Linked DNA regions of Homo sapiens: region 1 is linked to region 2. The links come from fine-mapping of genetic effects on plasma protein levels. A gene starts in region 2. The other region holds a variant in brackets. All regions are shown on one strand. Distances are from middle to middle.

Region 1 (3,018 bases), 34 kb after region 2:
GGTGTCTTGGCCATGGCGCCCTGGTGCTGCAACTCCTCTCCTTCATGCTCTTGGCTGGGGTCCTGGTGGCCATCCTTGTCCAAGGTCAGGGGCAGGTTCTGAGGGTCTGGGGTCCCCAGGCCTGGCCTTTTGGCTATGAACAGAGCCTGGAGTGGCCAGGTCTGGGAGGGAGGTGGGACTGAGAGCCAAGATGTTGTCCCTGGGGGTCTGTAGGGGCCTCTCCCACAGCCCCTCCCCACTCTAGAGCAGGACAGGAGAGGGAGGAGGAGGAGGGGAAGAACCTGGCTCTCCTTGGCCTTCTGTGCTGCCTTCTCCAGGTGTCAGTTTTCCTCATCTTCAAAGGGGATTAACTGAGACCTTGGCTCTCACAAATGATGTCTCTATGGGGCTCAGTTCAGGGCTTGGCACACAGTAGGTGTTTAATAATTGCAGTTCCTTTTCTTCTTGGCCCAGTGTCCAAGGTCCCCAGCTCCCTAAGTCAGGAACAATCCGAGCAAGACGCAATCTACCAGAACCTGACCCAGCTTAAAGCTGCAGTGGGTGAGCTCTCAGAGAAATCCAAGCTGCAGGAGATCTACCAGGAGCTGACCCAGCTGAAGGCTGCAGTGGGTGAGTTGCCAGAGAAATCCAAGCTGCAGGAGATCTACCAGGAGCTGACCCGGCTGAAGGCTGCAGTGGGTGAGTTGCCAGAGAAATCCAAGCTGCAGGAGATCTACCAGGAGCTGACCCGGCTGAAGGCTGCAGTGGGTGAGTTGCCAGAGAAATCCAAGCTGCAGGAGATCTACCAGGAGCTGACCCGGCTGAAGGCTGCAGTGGGTGAGTTGCCAGAGAAATCCAAGCTGCAGGAGATCTACCAGGAGCTGACGGAGCTGAAGGCTGCAGTGGGTGAGTTGCCAGAGAAATCCAAGCTGCAGGAGATCTACCAGGAGCTGACCCAGCTGAAGGCTGCAGTGGGTGAGTTGCCAGACCAGTCCAAGCAGCAGCAAATCTATCAAGAACTGACCGATTTGAAGACTGCATTTGGTGAGTTCCTGCACATCAAGGGTCCTTGGGCCTGAGATGGTCTCTGTGTGATGTGACTTTACTTGAGTTACCAACCCTGCCTGAGCCTCAGTTTCCTCCCCTGTGAAATGAGAACACGGGGTAACTGCGATCATTGCACTTGGTGTTCACAGTGGGCCAGGCACACAGTAGACACTCAGTTCAACCAATCCGCTGCCTTCTGTTCTGAGCTCTAAAGCTGCTAATTCTCCCAGTCTGGAAGAGATGGAGCCAGGACTCCTGGGTTCTCCTGGGGATCAGGGAGAGTCTTGGGAAGTAGGGAGAGGAATGGTCTCTCCCCATTCCAAGCGGTCCAC[C/G]CAACATGGACAGTCAAGGAAGGGCCCTGATTTTCAAGGGCTTGAAGGCTGGGCAGATATGGGAATATGGACAACCTAATCTGAGCCCAGCCCTGACCAGCCTCCCCCAACAGAACGCCTGTGCCGCCACTGTCCCAAGGACTGGACATTCTTCCAAGGAAACTGTTACTTCATGTCTAACTCCCAGCGGAACTGGCACGACTCCGTCACCGCCTGCCAGGAAGTGAGGGCCCAGCTCGTCGTAATCAAAACTGCTGAGGAGCAGGTACACGTGGTGGGGGTCCTCGTCCTGGCCTGGGGCATGGCTTCTGGCCAACTGGGGAGGAGGTGCTCAGAGAGGATTTTGCAGAAGAGGGGCTTTGCTCTATTTGGAAAGATGGGAAGAGAAGGATATGAATGAAGGGGTCCCAGGTACCCTTCAAGCAAATACAAACCAGATCTGAACACATGTGAATATTTGGGGGAAACGTCAAATGTAAGCAAACCACCACAGCATGCTGCAGGTGTTTAACGGCCAGCTCTCCGGAGAGAAAATTCCTGATGTGTTGTGTTTGCCAATTTCCCCAGTGTAAATATTTCCACTGCGGCTGATTTCAAGCTGTGATGTGCTGTCACTCAGTGCAGAGCTGAAAGGAGATGTGCTGGACCAGCAATTAGTAGTGGGTCCAATGTGGCTCCAGTACATGAAACCCAGTCAGGAGTAAATTCATGTGGACATGCAAAATAGATAAACATGCAGCATTCACAGGAGCACATGAGGAGAGGCCAGCTGTGCATGCGTGCCTGCATGTCAGGACACACATGCCATGGGGATACAGATGTGAGAGGGGCTCAGACATGAGGAGGCTCAGGACCTGCTATATCAGAAAACTGCAGGTTAACTTGAAAGCAGAACTTTCTGCCAAGAGACGGGGAGGTGGAACCTGGAAAATGGGAAGCAGAGCTCCCTCCTGACTCCTCCTCTACCCTCCAGAACTTCCTACAGCTGCAGACTTCCAGGAGTAACCGCTTCTCCTGGATGGGACTTTCAGACCTAAATCAGGAAGGCACGTGGCAATGGGTGGACGGCTCACCTCTGTCACCCAGGTAGATTCTGGGAGAAAGGGACACTGTATCCAGTCGGGCTGGGTTCCTGCAACTCTGACTTGAGCTTTCCCTGGGGGTCCCCCCCAACCTCCCTGACCCCATAGGACTAAGAGTCTGGGGTTTTACTGAGTTGAGGAAGGTGGTCTTCATACCCACCTCCAGACAGGATGAAAGGTGCCAAGAATTCCACCAGCAGAGCTGCAGGAGGAGCTTGCCCTGTGGGTAGGTGTGTTAAAATACAGTGTATTAATAGGAAGTCTGAAGTCTAGTAAGGCCACCAGCTCAGGAGACAATTGCCATTTACACAAAGTGAGTAGCTTATCCTACCCACAGGTTCCTAGAGGGCGCACATTTCACAGCAGGGGGCCGCTGGGGAAGCAGCAGGGTCTGTCGTGAGGGAAAGTCATGGAGGGGACTGTGGGCCAGAGCTTTTATTATGGTTTGCATGGGGAGAAAAGGGCAAGGCCAGGCAAGCAGGCTTCAGATGGGCAGATATGAAGCATTTTGTGGGCTCTGGGGCATAGAGGCTGCCTAGCGGCCTGACACCTGGCCTTGGGGTGATTAGGGCAGAAAG
Region 2 (2,575 bases):
CGACCTCCTCCTTCAGGGCACCCAGCGCCGCCGTCTGCTTCGAGGCTGGAACGACCCCCGCCCCAAAATGCATGCCCCTCGGGTCACTTGGGAGGACTCAGGGGACCCCCTTCCAGCCTCAGGGACCATAGGGCCCCCACGCACTCGAGACTCCATCTCCGGGGTCTCAGAAACTCCCGCCCCTCACGCCCCGGGGGCCCAGGCGCCCGGCTCTGCACACACCGTTTGTCCTCAGCAGGTCGTGGCCGTCAAGCAGCGCCGCGCGCTCCGTGGAGGCTGAGGAGAGAGGCTCCTGCAGGCGAGGCCGGGAACTCGGGAATCCTCCCCTCGCCCGGGGGGTGCAGCGTCCCCCAACTCGGGAGCACGGAGCGGGCGGGCAGGCATACAGCTCACACGATGTGCACACACGCCGATGGGAGACAAACGCGCGGGGACTCGCGCACATACGAGCACGCCATGTGCACACGCGTGAGTGCACACGGCCCAAAGATGTACACACACTCTGCTCACACTCAGACGCGAACAGGACCCCAGGATGCAGCTGGTGCGCCATGCAGTGGGGGTTTTCTGTCCCCAGGGGGGCCGGATGCAACACCTCCCCATTGAGAGTCACTCACCCTTGGACAATAGGATACTCAGAATCACAGCCCAAAGGACTGTGGTGACCAGGACAGCCAGGGCCAAGAAGAGGGGTCTCCTGCTCCAGTGCACCCAGCGTCCCCAGGGCCCTGGCATAACAAGGACGGCATGCTGGGTCCCCCAGAACTGAGCCCTGGAGGCCTGAGTTACTCCCAGGAAACTGAGATTCAGAGAAGTTAAGTAACTTGCCTATGGTCACACAGCTTCTAAGCGGCAGAGTTGGAATTGGACCCTGGTCCAACTGGCTCTATGGCCTGTGGTGTCTCTCCTGCACCCACAACCCTGGCCTGTCTCGACTCTTCCCTCCCCTCCCCCATCAAACCCCAGACACTGGGGCAGGGATGGGGCAGTCTCCTTGCTCATACCTCCGGGGACCTCCTCGGAGCTGCCGCCCCACTTGCTGTACCTGGTGGTGTCCATGGCGATGCAGGCACCCAGTCCTGGGCAGAGATATAAATTTCACGCCTGTTCTCACTGGACCTACGCACTCCCTTCCTTCCTTCCCATTTTCTTGGCCTTAATTCCTGGCAACGGGAACCCATGGACCAATCACAGGATTGGGCCCTTTCAAGGCTGGGCTGGGCTGGGCTGGAGTGAGGCCGGGCGGTTCCAGCCTCCTGGTTCTGGCCACTGCAGCTCCATCCCCAGGCTGGTGCTGGAGGCTTCTCTTTGGAGCTTAGTCACCATCTCTTATGGGCCTGGGGCTGGAGGCTTCTCTTTGGAGCTTAGTCACCATCTCTTATGGGCCTGGGGCTGGGTTTTATCCCGCGAGGGACACACTGAACCCGACCAAATTGTAACCCCTGCTGGCTCCTGAGAAAGCCCCCTCAGGCATAGCCCCCCAGGCCAGTTCAGGTCCCTTCTCAACTCCCCTGCAGGTGCCTGCAGAGGCTGGGTTTGAACCTGACCTTGATCCAGTCCCTCTGTACCAGAAGGGAACAAACAGTTTTGTTAGGGAGGTAGCCGGCGGAGCTGCAGGACTCTACCACTGTATGGGTTCTAGGTAGCTTCTAGAAGCCTTAGTTTTCCCCACTGTAAAGGAGATAGCGATGGGCCTCTCTCACAAAGATGCTATGATAAAGAAACAAGACAGTCTTGCTGGCTCACACCTGTAATCCCAGCACTTTGGGAGGCCGACATGGAAGGATCACTGAGCCCAGGAGTTCCAGACCAGACCAGCCTGGGCAATATAACAAGACCCTCATTTCTGAAAAAAAAAAAAAAATATATATATATATATATATATGAAAACAAAAATTGAAAAAATAAAAAAATAAAGACAATGAGGTTATACATGTCTACCTAGCACCATTTCAGGCATATCAAAAACACTCAGTGTTCATGCATTCTTTCAACAAACATTGAGCACCTGCCATATGCCAGGCATTGATCTTGGAACTGGGGCCACATCAGAGAGTAAAATAAGCAAATTCCTCTCTTCTTGGAGCTAATATTCTAGAAGTGTGGGGAGACAGACTCCATACTCAACGTAATAAACATAATTGAAAACATAAGTTGTATAGCATAGTAGTTCCCAGCTGGGGGCAATTACGCCCACCAGGGGACATTTGGCTATGTCTGGAGACACTTTTGGTTGTCACAGAATGTGTGTGTGTGTGTGTGTGTGTGTGTGTGTGTGCTCCAGGCATCTAGTGGGTAGAGGCCAGGGATGCTGCGCAAAGCCCTACAATGCCTAAGACATCCCCCATAGCAAAGAATGATCTGACTCCTAATGTCCATAGTGCAAAAGGTGGGAACCGTAGTATACTCTATTCAAAAGTCATAAATGCTATGAAAAAACATTAAGGGAAGAAAAAATCCAGTAGGATAAGTACTTGGCAGGACTGGGATGGGCACTAGGCAGTGGGCAGTGGCTAGGGTGGCCAGGGCCAGCCTCACTGACAAGGTGAAATGTTGAGCACTTAATAGAATGTTC

Direction of the effects. Alleles are on the strand shown, and positions count from the first base shown. The strength of an association depends on the size of the effect and on how common the allele is.
With allele C in place of G in region 1, the plasma level of the protein whose gene starts at base 1,067 in region 2 is lower (weak association).

What was found. A credible set is the group of variants that fine-mapping cannot tell apart. PIP is the chance, under the fine-mapping model, that this variant and not a neighbour inherited with it causes the effect. The UK Biobank Pharma Proteomics Project read protein levels with antibody pairs (Olink). The fine-mapping took linkage between variants from a reference panel, not from the people measured, so its PIPs are less certain.
Region 1: its variant is the best candidate, but not a certain one, in a credible set for the plasma level of the CLEC4G protein (UK Biobank, PIP 0.62).

What each region holds. Positions count from the first base shown.
Region 1 is chr19:7,765,185-7,768,202 of GRCh38, forward strand. CLEC4M (C-type lectin domain family 4 member M) reads left to right here. Exons shown (of 7, transcript NM_014257.5): 3 at 1-84; 4 at 454-1,023; 5 at 1,472-1,623; 6 at 2,332-2,444. Among named protein-coding and RNA genes, the nearest start is that of CLEC4M, 3.5 kb to the left of the region's middle. The variant C/G (reference allele first, on the strand shown) is at 1,359.
Region 2 is chr19:7,731,044-7,733,618 of GRCh38, forward strand. CLEC4G (C-type lectin domain family 4 member G) reads right to left here and starts at 1,067. Exons shown (of 9, transcript NM_198492.4): 1 at 1,005-1,067; 2 at 618-728; 3 at 223-276; 4 at 1-45. The coding sequence starts at 1,059. RefSeq lists promoters at 1,062-1,668, 1,062-1,374, 1,062-1,325 and a cis regulatory region at 1,132-1,141.